Regions from separate parts of the Homo sapiens genome. Here region 1 is linked to region 2. The links come from fine-mapping of genetic effects on gene expression. Tissue or cell type: monocytes after R848. Region 2 holds a variant in brackets; the other region holds the start of a gene. All regions are shown on one strand. Distances are from middle to middle.

Region 1 (7,675 bases), 150 kb after region 2:
GGCCTATTATGTTAATTTTTAACCTTAGACCAAACCTATAAGTTAATTTCTTTACTATGGCTCAGTGCTGTTGTAGAAAACTGCAAAATTTTTCAAGCAAAGTCAAGACTGACAACTGACCACTGAAGTTAACAATATAGCAGTCACTGATGATTCTTGACAAGCAGGAATTCGAGACGAGTACAGATTTAACCAACAACTGTTTTAACAAATATTGCTATAAGGGGAACAGAAAAATGAGGAATGGCTAGAGGTGGAAATTAAGTCAAGAAAGTTTAAGATGGGAGAAATACCAGCATGTTTATATGCTGATGGGAATGATTAAAGAAAAACTGATGATACAGGAGAAGGGACAACTGCAAGAGTACATCCTTCAGCAGGCAAAAATGGAATCTACTACAAAGGATAGGATCTAGTACACTGATGAAGGAACCAGACTTACGCAGGTGCTGTACAACCTATATAATTTACTTATTATTTTATTATTTCTCTCCACACTAAAGTGTAAGTTCTACAAAGACAGAGATTTTTTTGTGTTCTGCTATAAGCTACAACGGTACTTGGCACAAAACAGGCATGCAATAAATATCTGCTAAAAGAATGCAGTGGGTTTAAGAGTTAAGGGGTCAAGAAAGCACACAAAGTACAAGTACAGGTACCTTCCTTTTTTTTTTTTTTTTTTCCGAGACTGAGTCTCACTGTCACCCAGGCTGGAGGGCAGTGGCGCGATCTTGGCTCACTGCAAACTTCACCTCCTGGGTTGAAGTGATTCTCCTGCCTCAGCCTCCTGAGTAGCTGGGATTACAGACACTTGCCACAATGCCCGGCTAAATTTTGTATTTTTAGTAGAGAGAGCGTTTCACCACGTTGGCCAGGCTGGTCTGTCTCCTGACCTCAGGTGATCCACCCACTTCAGCCTCCCAAAGTGCTGGGATTACAGGCATGAGCCACTGCGCCCAGCCAAGTACAGGTAACTTCTTTGAGAAGTTTTCCTATGAAGAGTGCAGAGAAATGCAACAGAAGCTGGAGAGGGATGTGGGATCAAATGACTTTTTTTTTTTTTTTTGAGATGTAGTCTCGTTCTATCGCCCAGGCTGGAGAGCAGTGTCGTAATCTCAGCTCACCGCAACTTCTGCCTCCTGGGTTCAAGCGATTCTCCCGCTTCAGCCTCCCAAGTAGCTGGGATTACAGGTGTGCACCACTGCGCCCAGCTACTTTTTGTATTTTTAGTAGAGACGGACTTTCACCATGTTGGCCAGGCTGGTCTTGAACTCCTGACCTCAAGTGATCTGCCTACCTCGGCCTCCCGAAGTGTTGGGATTACAGGTGTAAGCCACAGTGCCCAGCCCAAATGAATTTTTTTTAAGACAGGGTCTGGCTCTTGTCACCCAGGCTGCAGTATAGTGTCATGATCATAGCTCACTGCAGCCCCAAACTCCTAGACTGAAACAACCCTCCCTGCTTCAGCCTCTCGAGTAGCTAGGACTACAGTGGTGCACAACCACCCGGGCTAATTTTTTACTTTCTATTTTTGTAGAAACGGTGTTTCACTATGTTGCCCAGGCTGGTCTCAAACTCCTGGCCTCAAGCGATCTTCCCATCTCGGCCTCCCAAAGTGCTGGGGTTACATGAATGAGCCACCGAGCCTCCCAACACCACTACCCCCGACCACCCACCTTTTAAAAAGATGGGTGATATTAACAGCACGTTTGTGCTGGTGTAAATGATCCAGCAGAAGGAAAATCTGATGATGTAGGAAAGAAAGGAGGAGGCTGGAAGGAAGTCAGTGAATACAGGGAAAAGAATGCAATCTAGTGGTGGACTGGAGGGACTCTTAAATAGGAGCATGGACAGTTCATCTTTTTTTTTTTTTTTTTTTGAGACGGAGTCTCGCTCTGTCGCCCAGGCTGGAGTGCAGTGGCACAATCTCCGGCTCACTACAACCTCCGCCTCCCGGGTTCACGCCATTCTCCTGCCTCAGCCTCCTGAGTAGCTGGGACTACAGGCGCCCGCCACCGCACCCGTCTAATTTTTTGTATTTTTAGTAGAGACGGGGTTTCACTGCGGTCTCAGTCTCCTGACCTCGTGATCCGCCCGCCTCGGCCTCCCAAAGTGCTGGGATTACAGGCTTGAGCCACCGCGCCCGGCATCAGTTCATCATTTTAACAGTGAAGCCAGAGTGTATGGGCAACTAACTGTGGGGTTGTGGGGCTGAAAGAAATGTTAAGGGGGACAGGTGATGTTCTCCTCTGACTGCTTCTCCTTTTTTTTTGAGACTGAGTGTCGCTCGGTCGCCCAGGCCGGAGTGCAGTGGCACAATCTCGGGCTCACTGCAAGCTCCGCCTCTCGGGTTGAAGGTATTCTCCTGCCTCAACCTCTGGAGTAGCTGGGACTATAGGCGCCCGCCACCACTACCGGGTAATTTTTTTGTATTTTTAGTAGAGACGGGGTTTCACCGTGTTAGCCAGGATGGTCTCGATCTGCTGACCTCGTGATCCGCCCGCCTCGGCCTCCCAAAGTGCTGGGATTACAGGACTGAGCGACCGCGCCCGGCCGACTGCTTCTCCTTTCTTAATGAGATATATATTAAAATACAAGTTCATCAGCTTAAAGTAAGAAGCGGGTAGGACAGACTGCAGGTGTAGGAGATGAGAAGAATAGTGTAAAAGAGTGTTGCCTGGGTGCGGCGGCTCACGTCTGTAATAGCAACACTTTGGGAGGTGGAGGTAGGAAGACTGCCTGAGGCCAGGAATTCGAGACCAGCCCAGGCAACATAGCAAGACCTCATCTCCACTAAAAATAAAAAATTAGCCGGGTGTGGTGGCGTGTGCCTGTACTTCTAGCTGCTCAAGAGGCTGGGGTGGGAAGATCCCTTGAGCCCAGGAAATCGAGGTTGCAGCAATACTTCACTGCGCCGCTGCACTCCAGCCTGGGCAACACAGGGAGATCCTGTATCGGAAAAAAAAAAGTGTATTTAGGAAAACACAGATTGGCAGTTTGGGAGATGAAAATTGAATGTAGGAGAATGAACGTCCAGGAAAACACGGTAGACATGACCAAAACACCTTCTTTAGATTAGTGGACTTGTATTAAAAGTGAGATAACTCGGCGGGGCGCGGTGACTCACGTCTGTAATTCCAGCACTTTGGGAGGCCGAGGTGGGCGAATCACAAGGTCAGGAGTTTGAGACCAGCCTGGCCAATATGGCGAAACCCCGTCTCTACTAGAAATACAAAAATTAACCGGCCGTGGTTGCGCGCGCTTATAGTTCCAGCTACTCCAGAGGCTGAGGCAGAAGAACCGCTTGAACCCGGGAGGCAGAGGTTGCAGTGAGCGGAGATGCTGCCACTGCACTCCAGCCAGCCTGGGCGACAGAGCAAGAGACTCCGTCTCAAAAAAAAAAGTGAGACAACTCACCAAGGTTCTGTTTTTCTCCAGCCACTTTCAACAGCCCTTAGTGCGGGTGTGGAATAGGAAAGGTAGATTTAACGAGGTTAGTTAATAAGCAATGTGAAGGAGAAAAATAAAAGGAAAAATGGATTATGAAATATAAAATGGATTACGAGGGAAGCAAAAAGCGTGACAGTAAAAAGGCAGGAGGACAATTATAGGTCCTGGTGGGGTTCAGGCGTTGTTGGAGCCGGGGTTCCAAGTTATTCTTCACAAGTTTAGATTAAGACCATGGAAGTCAGTGACTAAAGCTAAGTTTTTCGTTCCTCTAGATTCTGCCCCAGGAAAGTTTGGGTCAAACCTATCGGGATCCTTAAACCACATTCCACTCCGCCTCCTTTGTCGGGAGGTTTCACAGAAGCGGAAAAGGCGGCTCCCCCTTGCTCCTCCTCCCCACCTCCCCCCTACCTCTAGGAGTTTAGGGCCGGGCCATCCCAACGGGCTGCCCCTCCCAAAACTCACTGTTTGGACAGGTGTTGGGCGTCGCTAGGCGCCGACGAAGAACTTCTTTCCAGTCCATGGCCGACTTCCGCGCAGCAGCTTCTGCATTTGCTGTTTCCTACCTGCTCCACCCCTACCAGCTCAGGCGTCAGCACCGCCAGGCCCCGTAAAGGTTAGGAAGGCCGTCCAACCACCATCTTGATCGAGGGCGGAAGTCTTGGCTAAAGAGGCAAAAACAATTACTGTCACTGCCGCGGAGAATACCGCTACCACGCTGACTGGGGGAAAAAACTATGAAAGAGATGGAAAATGGTTCTCCTTCAGAGGCGACCCAAGCTCACCAAGCCGGATTTTAAAGGCCACGATAAGCCCGCGTTTTCCTTTATCGTGTGCCTTTGGCGCGTGCGCACCACGTGACCCAGGAGTTCATTAGTTCCGGCTTGAGGGAAGCGCCTTCTTTCACAATTTCTTTTCATTGTTCATTGCGGATATCTGGAAGCCTTCCAGGTCCCCTGAATGTAGTAGACACTTCAGCAGCCGTCTCCTACCCCTTTTGCCACTAAATGCTTCAAAACTGCCTTTTTTCCTCGCCGCCGGGCCAGGCGGAACGCCTAAGTCCGGGTCAGTCTCGTCCGTCGGTCGGGGCTGGCGCGGTGCATCGTGGGCACTGTAGTTTCCGCCGCGTTTATGGCCGCGTTAAGTCTGAGTGCCGCTTTGAGTTGTTGAATGAAGTGAACTTCATTTGTCAGCGTTCGGTACGCAGTCTAGGCAGCGCCCTTCCTGTACCTCTCTTCCTTTCCTGAGTCGTTGGCGCAGCTGACTCGCCACCTCCTCCCTCCTCGTCCCCCCACCGGAGGAGTTTTGCGGTCTGTAGAGAGCTATGCAGGGTGAGGGCCCCTAGACTTCGGCTTTCGCCGCTGTTGGTGGTAGGCTGGAGTTGGGGGTCCCTGGATACGGTTTTGGCTTTACACCCCCTTTCCAGCAAGCTTCCCGTGGGAATCTGTTCCTTTTCAGGACAGCTGTGATCCACGTGAGTAAAACTGGGCGTTCCGTCTTGTGCTTTTTCCTCAGGTTCATGAACTGGAATGTAAGAGGCACCAGAGGATTCCTGCTCTGTCCCCTGGTTTGCGGCTTGCGACGTTGGACATCCCCGGATTGTTGTTTAATAGAGAAAACTCACCTGCCTTCTTGCTTTTAAGTAGCCCCAAAAGCAGAACCTTGATTTGTCTGTAAGGAAGAAACACAAACCTTTTAAAAAGTTCCACTTCGACTCTGCACCGCCGACCCCCAATCTCTTTAATTTTGCCATAGAAGAGGGGTTTTTTCAACATCTCTCTCACTATCTGGTGCTGATCTCACTGCATAATGACTTTCTATTTGTTTGGTATTCGAAGCTTTCCGAAGCTTTGGAAGAGCCCATACCTTGGGCTAGGCCCAGGGCACTCTTATGTCTCGCTGTTTCTGGCAGACCGCTGTGGCATCAGGAACCAGCAGAGGTTGTTTTCTCTTAAAACAATGTCTCCACAGAATACCAAAGCAACGAATCTGATTGCCAAGGCCAGATATCTCAGGAAAGATGAGGGCAGTAATAAGCAAGTTTATTCTGTTCCTCATTTTTTTTTAGCTGGAGCAGCTAAGGAGAGATCACAGATGAATTCTCAAACTGAAGATCATGCCTTGGCACCTGTGAGGAACACTATTCAACTCCCAACACAACCTTTGAATTCAGAGGAGTGGGATAAACTTAAGGAAGATTTAAAAGAAAACACCGGAAAGACCAGTTTCGAAAGTTGGATCATTTCACAGATGGCTGGCTGTCATAGCTCTATAGATGTGGCTAAATCTCTGCTGGCATGGGTAGCAGCCAAAAATAATGGTATTGTAAGTTACGATTTACTGGTCAAGTATTTGTATCTCTGTGTCTTTCATATGCAGACATCTGAAGTTATTGATGTCTTTGAAATTATGAAAGCCAGATATAAGACTTTAGAACCTAGAGGTTACAGTCTTCTCATCCGGGGATTGATCCATTCAGACAGATGGAGAGAAGCATTGTTGCTGTTAGAGGACATCAAAAAAGTTATAACTCCTTCAAAAAAGAACTATAATGACTGTATCCAGGGAGCTCTCCTTCATCAAGATGTAAACACAGCTTGGAATTTATATCAGGAATTGCTAGGTCATGATATTGTTCCTATGTTGGAAACTTTAAAAGCTTTCTTTGATTTTGGAAAAGACATAAAGGATGATAACTATTCAAATAAACTACTAGATATTCTTTCATATCTAAGAAATAATCAGCTGTATCCAGGGGAGTCATTTGCACACAGTATAAAAACATGGTTTGAGAGGTAATTTTGGTTTTTTTATATGTATGTTTTTATTCTTTAATTTTTTTTTTTTTTGAGACAGGGTCTTGCTCTGTTGCCCAGACTGGAGTGCAGTGGTGTGTTCATAGCTCACTGTAACCTCAAACTCCTGGCCTCAAGTGATCCTCTCGCTTCAGTCTCCTCAGTAGCTAAAACCACAGGCATGTGCCACCATACCTGGCTAATTATTTTTAATTTAATAACTTTAAACCTCAAAGTAGCCATTCTTTTTTGTTGTTAGTTGCTGAGAATCACTCTTCTGATTATACTTTTTTCCATCTCTTAGTAAGATTTATTTTCTCTTTACGACAAAATTTTCTCTCTTTAAAAAAAGTAACAACATACATAATTTGTGCTAATCTTTACCCATCACATAAAACTGAAATTATATAGCAGTTTTAATTTTTACATTTTTTTCCTTTTGGAAGGATCATTAATTTTGTTTTCTTAGGCATCTAGTATGATGTGAGTACTTAATACTACTTATGGCCACTGTTCATAGCAAGAAAAGAATATAGCATTTGACTAGAACTGTCTCTGGCCATATTAGTATTTTCAGAAGTTCCTCTGAAATCTAGCGACTGAGATAATATGCTTATATTTATTCTGTCTACTCTCTCCCTTTTTTTTTTTTTTGAGACGGAGTTTTGCTCTTGTTGCCAGGCTAGAGTGCAATGGCATGATCTCGGCTCATTGTAACCTTTGCCTCCCGGGTTTTCTCCTGCCTCACACTCCCGAGTAGCTGGGATTACAGGCATGCGCCACCATGCCCTGCTAATTTTCTATTTTCTTTTTAGTAGAGACGGGGTTTCTCTATGTTGGTCAGGCTGCTCTCGAACTACCTCAGGTGATCCGCCTGCCTCGGCCTCCCAAAGTGCTGGGATTACAGGCGTGAACCACCGCGTCCGGCCTATTCTGTCTACTATCTATAGTTCATCAACTTGGATGATTAGAGTGGACAGGGGGATATTGATCAAGCCTTATACGTAAGCATTACAATGGAAAATCTTAACCCTTCCAGTTTGTTTTGGACCTTTCTATCATTTGGCTGCTGTCTCTCTAAAGCTCTCTCCTTTGGTTTGCTTTTGCTTTATTCATGTTACTGGGTACATACCTGTTTATTGCTTTAGTCTTTTTTAAAATTTTTGAAAATTTTTACTTATTTTTTAAAATTAATATTCTTTTTTTAAGAGGTGGGGTCTTGCTGTGTTGACCAGGCTGGACTCAAACTCTTGGCCTCAAGCGATCAGGTGTGAGCCACCATGCTTAGTCATTATTTCTTCATTAATTTGCTTCCTAAAAATTTGTTCCTTCCCTCTGTTTTTCTCTTGCCTTTTTTTCCCCTATATCATGTTTACGGAGCTTTGAAGCAGTAATTATGCTTAATTATCTTAAACTTACTGAAGATCAAGGGA
Region 2 (7,675 bases):
TGTTTAAAACCAAATTTAGGGCTGATTAGGCTAAAGAGACTGTGGGGTTAGGAAGAATAGGAGAAACTTTAAGAAGCACTCACAGTAAATTTAACATATTTACTTTTATTTGTCTCTTCATGAACTATCCTCAGTCAATGATGTCAGACATTCACTTCTCCTCTTGCTTTTTGATCTAAGTGTTGCATTATCAGAATGCACATCAGGTGCATTCTGGTGTGACACCATAAGCTGAGACTTTCCCATTGCTCATCAGTGAATGCTAACTGACCTGATCTCTTAATTTTCTTTCTGTATGCTCCCTGCAGTGTGGTCTCTGGAATCCCTCCTGGTGTCGGCCAGTCCTGGTGGTAGTTTTGCATAGTTGAGCTGGTTTCTGCAGTACGATATAATGCTGCAGAGGCAAGGTGCAGGAATGTTGTTGCTGTTATTTTTGAGGAAAAAGGATGACGTGCTGCCTTGGCATAAGGAAACCACTCGGGCCCGACTGCTCTGTCAAATGACTTCCACACCTCTCTGAACTTGAGTATCTCATCTATTACCCTAGGGATTAAGATTAAAGCAGAACCAAAATACTAAAGAAAATTGTTTTTTATGAACACCATCATCTTCTGGGGTTCTTTTGTGACTGATGAATCTGAGCTATGAATGGTTGCGCAGTTCCACTAACCTTAATGGAAAGTATCCTGATGAGAGACTAGTGGCACCATCTATACCCTGCCATTTTAGATACATAAGTAGCGATGTCAATTCAAGAGTAGCAGACATGCAGCCAGGTACAGTGGCTCATGCCTGTAATCCTAGGACTTTGGGAGGCCGAGGCGGGTGGATCACCCGAGATTAGGAGCTCGAGACCAGCCTGGCCAACATGGTGAAACTCCGTCTCTACTAAAAAAATACAAAAACTAGCCAGGTGTGGTGGCAGGCACCTGTAGTCCCAGCTACTTGGGAAGCTGAGGCAGGAGAATCGCTAGAACCCGGGAGGCAGAGGTTGCAGTGAGCCGAGATTTGTGCCACTGCACTCCAGCCTGGGCGACAAGAGCAAAACTCCATCTCAAAAAAAAGTTGTTATGCTCTATTTCTAAAAATAGTATATTATTATTTTTGAAATACTTTCAATTCTCTGCTGGATCAATGTACAAATGTACAATCTGTGGACATGGAGAACCCACTGCATATCCTAAGCATTTACGCTATGTCATTAAAATTAAAATTAGTGGAAACTTTACTTTTGAAGGCTGTGTAGTCTCTATTTAACCATTCACTGCTACCCTGAGACAGTTAAATATAGTTATAATTGTGTAAAACTGAGAATACTGCAACAAACATTTTGACAAACATCATCTCTTTGCATCTCTGATTATTTCCTTACTATAAATTCTTAGAAGTGCTTCAACATTGAAAAGGCTTTTCCTACACATTTGCACATTTCTTTCTTTCTTGAAGGACATCAGTTTAACAGAAATAAAAAAGAACACGAGTCTCTGGCTGGGCGTGGTGGCTCACGCCTGTAATCCCAGCACTTTGGGAGGCTGAGGCAGGCAGAGCACTTGAGGTCAGGAGTTCGAGACCAGTCTGGCCAACATGGTAAAATCCTGTCTCTACTAAATTACAAAAATTAGCTGGACATGGTGGTACATGCCTGTAATCTTAGTTACTTGGGAGGATGAGGCAGAAGAATTCCTTGAACCCGGGAGGTGGAGGTTGCAGCGAGCCGAGATGGCTCCACTGCACTCCAGCCTGGGCATGAGACTCCCTCTCAAAAAATAAAAAATAAAATAAAAAAAAAGAACACAAGTCTCATCAAACCCTCACAACACTGAATATTACCATAAAAACAAACTTGGGCAGGGTACGGTGGCTCACACCTGTAATCCCAGCACTTTGGGAGGCCAAGGCAGGCAGATCGCTTGAGTCCAGGGGTTTGAGACCAGCCTGGGCAACATGGTGAAACCCCATCTCTACAAAAAAAATTAAAAAGTAGCTGGGCATGGTGGTGTATGCCTATAGTCCCAGCTACCTGGGAGGCTGAGGTGGGAGGATCACCTGAGCCTGGGAGGTCAAGGCTGCAGCGAGCCGTGATCACACGATTGCACTCCAGCCTGGGCAACCAGAGTGAGATCCTACCTGAAAAAATAAAAAAACTAAAAAACCTGGTTAATTTGCATTTATTTAATTACTAGTGAGGTGGAACATCTCTTAACACATAAACAGCAAATGTGTGGTAATACTACGTTGCTTGGAAAAAGATTAAAGGAAGGTGCTAATCAGCTGCCTAAAGGAGAGTAGAGCTTTCCTCAAATTACATATGTAGAGGGGAAGGGAATGGAGAAAGAAGAGCTTCTCTAAAGGGCAAAATCAATTCTTTAAAATTTCCTACTTACATCTAATTAATTATATGAGGAAAGAAAAGTCCCCAAAGCTGACAGCCTATGAATCAAACCTCACTTTTTGTATCTAGTCAGGTATTCAGTCCCACCACTTTTTCTTTTGAAACCTATTTTCCCTTCATTCTCAATTCAACTATCTCATAGCCATAGTCATCATCTCACACTCTGAATACCATTACAAACTCATAACCAGTTCCTCAATATCAGCTTCTCCCCACTATAAAATACCTTGTTCACCTAAACGAATCTCGCTTAAACCTCACTTTTATATCACTCCCTCTCCTTACAAACTTTTAATGATCTTCTATTTTTCAGTGTATCAAATCTTGAGATTTTTAAGGCCCTCCATATCACAAGTCTACTCAGCCATTTTCTTAAAATTTTATTTTTAATTGACAAATAATAATTGTATATATTTATGGGGTAGAATGTATACATTGTAGAATGATCAAATCGGGCTAACATATTCATCACCACATATTTATTATTTCTTTGTTTTTCTTGGGAGGGAGTTTTGCTCTTGTTGCCCAGGCTGGAGTGCATTGGCGTGATCTCGGCTTGCCGCAACCTCCACCTTCCGGGTTCAAGCGATTCTTCTGTTTCAGCCTCCTGAGTAGCTGGGATTACAGGCATGCGCCACCACGTCTGGCTAATTTTGTATTTTTTTTTTAGTAGAGATGGGGTTTCTCCATGCTGGTCTCGAACTCCCGACCTCAGGTGATCTGTCTGCCTCAGCCTCCCAAAGTGCTGAGATTACAGGCA[T/C]GAGCCACTGCACCTGGCCAAATTTATTATTTCTCTGCGTCGAGAACATTTAAAACCCACCCTCTTTTTTTTTTTTTTTTTTTTGAGGCAGAGTTTCGCTCTCATTGCCCAGGCTGGAGTGTAATGGCATCATCTCAGCTCACCACAACCTCCGCCTCTCAGGTTCAAGCAATTCTCCTGCCTCAGCCTCCTGAGTAGCTGGGATTACAGGCATGTGCCACCACGTCCGGCTAATTTTTTGTATTTTTAGTAGAGATGGGGTTTCTCCATGTTGGTCAGGCTGGTCTTGAACTGACCTCAGGTGATCCGCCCATCTCAGCCTCCCAAAGTGCTGGGATTAAAGGCTTGAGCCACCGCGCCTGGCCAAAACCCACTCTCTTAACAATTCTGAAATACGGTCACGTACTACATAATGACACTTCCATCAATGACAGACTGCACACACCATGGTGGTCCCATAAGATTACAATGTCATATTTTTACTGTACCTTTTCTATGTTTAGATACACATATACTAACCATAGTGTTACAACTGCCTACAGTTGCTACAGGAACATGCTGTACAGGTTTGTAGAAGGTGCAACAGGCTATACAATCTAGGTTTGAGTAAGTACTGTACATTCCATGATGCTCGCACAACAATGAAATGGCCTAACAGTGCATTTCTCAGAATCTGTCCCTGTTGTTACATGATGTATGATTGTATGTATGTTTTAGCAAATTTGGTGAATTACATTGATTTTCTAATGTTAAACCAACAGGACATTCCTGAGATAAACCCACTAGCCCATGATGTATTATTCTTTTCACATATCCTGGCCATTTTTAATAGACAACAAATGCGATTGAGAGAAAAGTACAATTATATTCATTTAGTAGAACCTATAAAAGCTCTGTAGCTACTGCTCAGCAACATGTTCAATTGAGGTGTTTACAACAAAGGATACAGAGAATCTCCTGTAAGTGTCTAGTCACCTCTTGTTATTTTAAGCATTTAAATATTTCTTGACTATCTGGTTAATTTCCTTCCTGCAAACCTTAATTTTCTACCCTCTGTACCTTGATCCTTAATAGAAACTGTATGAGCAGTTGGGCGCAGTGGCTCACACCTGCAATCCCAGTGCTTTGGGAGGCTGAGGTTGGTGAAATAATTGAGCTCAGGAGTATGAGATCACCCTGGGCAACATGGTGAAACCCTGTCACTACCAAAAAATGCAACAATTGGCCAAGTATGATGGCACGCACCTATAATCCCAGCTACTTGGGCTGAGGGAGGAGGCTCACTTGAACTTGGGAAGTTGAGGCTGCAGTGAGCCCTGTGTTCACACCACTGCACTCCAGCCTGGGTGACACAGCGAGACTGTCTAAAAGAAGAGGCCCAGCACGGTGGCTCATGCCTGTAATCCCAGCACTTTGGGAGGCCAAGGTGAGCGGATCATCTGAGGTCAGGAGCTGGAGATCAACCAACATGGTGAAACCCTGTCTCTACTAAAAATACAAAAATTAGCCAGGCATGGGCCAGACACGGTGGCCCACACCTGTAATCCCAGCACTTTGGGAGGCCGAGCGGGGCGGATCAGCAGGTCAGGAGATCAAGACCATCCTGGCTAACACGGTGAAACACCGTCTCTACTAAAAAAATACAAAAAAATTAGCCGGGTGTGGTGGCAGGCGCCTGTAGTCCCAGCTACTCAGGAGGCTGAGGCAGGAGAATGGTGTGAACCCAGGAGGTGGAGCTTGCAGTGAGCTGAGATCGCGCCACTGCACTCCAGCCTGGGTGACAGAGTAAGACTCCATCTCAAAAAAAAAAAAAAAAAAAAAAAAGAAAAGGAGAGACTTTGTATGAGTTATTGGTTTAATGTCCTCATTTATTTCTATTTTGCATATTCAGGAAATACTGAGAGCCTTCAGAGTAGAATTTGTTAATAGACTGCTGTTGCATTGTATCTTTTCTATTTGCCCTATTGGGGACCCCATTTGCAGATCTGGTTCTCAACTCCCCTCACTTAATGGATTGCAATCAGTCTCCTACACTTTGAAATCTAGGTCAAGAGCCCACTTCATACACATCAGGAAAATAGTAGGGAAAAGATACTCTGCCAGAGGATCAGAATCAATGAGTTCCAGTACTGCTGTATTTTAACTGCTTTTTATCTTTTTTTGGGGGGAGAGGAACTTGTTTTTGCCTGCATTGCCCCTCAGACTTGGTTTACCTGTCTGACACTAGTGCTCATTATTTCCTAGCCTAAGCTGTACAAAGAAACATCTAGGCTCCCACCTTTGTTTTATGTTTCTTTTTTCCTTTTTTTTTTTGAGATGGCGTCTCACTCTGTTGCCCAGGCTGGAGTGCAGTGGCGCAATCTTGGCTCACTGCAACCTCAGCCTCCTGGGTTCAAGCAATTCTCTTGCCTCAGCCTCCCGAGTAGCTGGGACTACAGGTGCACACCATCATGCCTGGCTAATTTTTTGTTTTTGTATTTTTAGTAGAGACAGGGTTTCACCATGTTGGCCAGGCTGGTCTCAAACTCCTGACCTCAGGTGATCTGCCTGCCTTGCCTCCCAAAGTGCCAGGATTACAGGCGTGAGCCACTGCACACAGCCATGTTGTCTAGTTTTAATAAACTCTTATGAAACTCAAAACCAAAGCCATACTCAACATCTAGCGTTGTCTTTTGTTATTCCATCAAATGGTATAAAAATTCAAGAAGAGTTATAATTTAAATTAAAAGTCTAGGCAAATGTCATGCAAGACATTATTTAAATGACTTAATGCCAGAGGTTTAAAAATTTATTTAAAAATTATAGGAGAGGCCAGGCACAGTGGCTCAGGCCTGTAATCCCAGCACTTTGGGAGGCCGAGATGGGCGTATCACCTGAGGTCAGGAATTCGAGACCAGCCTGGCCAACATGGTGAAACCCCACTTCTACTAAAAATATAAAAATCAGCCGGACTTGGTGGCATGTGCCAGTAATCCCAGCTACTCAGGAGGCTGCACTCCAGCCTGGGCAACAGAGCGAGACTCCGTCTCAAAAAAAAAAAAAAAAAAAAAACAAATTTCCCCAGGCAAAAGGAAATCTAATTAGGAAAATGAAAAATGGTTGTTTAGAAGAATATTTTGTGCTGTACTTAGACCACTTCATAAAAAGGTATACTAAGAGTTTCAGTTTGGGAAGACAAGAGTTCTGGAGATTAATAGTGATATTTACAAAACAACGTGAACATATTTAATGCCACTTAACTATACAGTAAAAAATGGTCAAAATGGTCTGGCCGTGGTGGCTCACGCCTGTAATCCCAGCACTTTGGGAGGCTGAGGTGGGCAGATCACGAGGTCAGGTGCTCGAGACCAGCTTGGCCAACATGGTGAAACCCCATCTCTACTAAAAATACAAAAATTAGCCAGGTGTGGTGCACGCCTGTAATCCCAGCTACTCAGAAGGTTGAGGCAGGAGAATCGCTTGAACCTGGGAGGCAGAGGTTGCAGTGAGCCGAGATTGTGCCATTGCACTCTAGCCTGGGCAAAGAGCAAGACTCTGTCTGAAGGAAAAAAAAAAAGGTCAAAATGGTAAATTTTATTTTATACATATTTTACCACAATAAAGAAGGTATACTAATACACTACTTTTTTTAAGGATTATAAATAACCATACTCCTTTATTTTAAGTTCAGTGATACTCTCACTTCTTAAAATTTTTTTTAATTTTTAATTTTTTTTTTTTTTTGAGACAGGTTCTCACTATGTTGCCCAGGCTGGTCTCACATTCCTGAGCTTAGGCAATTCACCTACCTCGGCCTCCCAAAGTGCTACGATTACAGGAGTGGGCCACATGCCCGGCCTCACTTCTTAAAATATTCGGGTTAATAAACATTCTTCAGAAACTCAAGTTATTTTTTAAATTGTTTAACAAATTGCTTGAGCTTCCTCACTACAGGATCTGCTGAAGAGAGGCACAAGAAGTACCTTTAGATCAGGTACGATGGCTCACACCTGTAATCCCAGCACTTTGGGAAGCCAAGGTGGGAGTATCTCTTGAGGCCAGGAGTTTGAGACCAGCCTGGGCAACATAGTGAGACACTGTCTCTACAGGAAATTTAAAAAAGCTGGGTGTGGTGGTTTGCACCATAGTCCAGCTACTCAGGTACTCAGGATGCTGAGGTAGGAGGACTGCTTGAGCCCAGGAGGTCAAAGCTGCAGTGGGCTATAACAGTGTCACGGCACACCAGCCTCCAGCCTGGGTGACAGAGTGAGACCCTTTCTTTAAAAACAACAAAAAGTACCTTTAAAAAAAGTAAAAATAGGGCCGAGCGCGGTGGCTCACGCTTGTAATCCCAGCACTTCGGAAGACCGAGGCGGGCAGATCACGAGGTCAGGAGATTGAGACCATCCTGGCTAACACGGTGAAACCCCGTCTCCACTAAAAATACAAAAAAATTAGCCAGGCGTGGTGGCACGTGCCTGTAGTTTCAGCTACTCAGGAGGCTGAGGCAGGAGAATCGCTTGAACCCAGGAAGCGGAGGTTGC

Which allele goes with the higher level. Positions count from the first base shown, and alleles are read on the strand shown. Sizes are in standard deviations (SD) of each study's normalised expression.
For the expression in monocytes after R848 of the gene that starts at base 4,563 in region 1, allele T in region 2 goes with a lower level than allele C (large effect, 0.87 SD a copy in Quach 2016).

The links. PIP is the estimated chance that this variant, and not a neighbour inherited with it, causes the effect.
Region 1: it holds the start of PRORP, and the variant in region 2 is fine-mapped to the expression of PRORP in monocytes after R848 (Quach 2016, PIP 0.91).

Annotation. Positions count from the first base shown.
Region 1 is chr14:35,117,990-35,125,664 of GRCh38, forward strand. It overlaps PRORP (protein only RNase P catalytic subunit), which reads left to right and starts at 4,563. Exons shown (of 8, transcript NM_014672.4): 1 at 4,563-4,646; 2 at 4,963-6,242. The coding sequence starts at 5,257. PPP2R3C (protein phosphatase 2 regulatory subunit B''gamma) reads right to left here and starts at 4,001. Exons shown (of 13, transcript NM_017917.4): 1 at 3,913-4,001. The coding sequence starts at 3,970. PRORP-PSMA6 (PRORP-PSMA6 readthrough) reads left to right here and starts at 3,850. Exons shown (of 15, transcript NR_182666.1): 1 at 3,850-4,063; 2 at 4,963-6,242. RefSeq lists enhancers at 3,205-4,404, 3,624-4,543, 3,787-3,916, 4,457-4,536, 4,544-5,463 and 1 more.
Region 2 is chr14:34,971,671-34,979,345 of GRCh38, forward strand. All of the region lies in intron 1 of SRP54-AS1 (SRP54 antisense RNA 1), which reads right to left. Among named protein-coding and RNA genes, the nearest start is that of SRP54-AS1, 7.1 kb to the right of the region's middle. The variant T/C (reference allele first, on the strand shown) is at 3,153.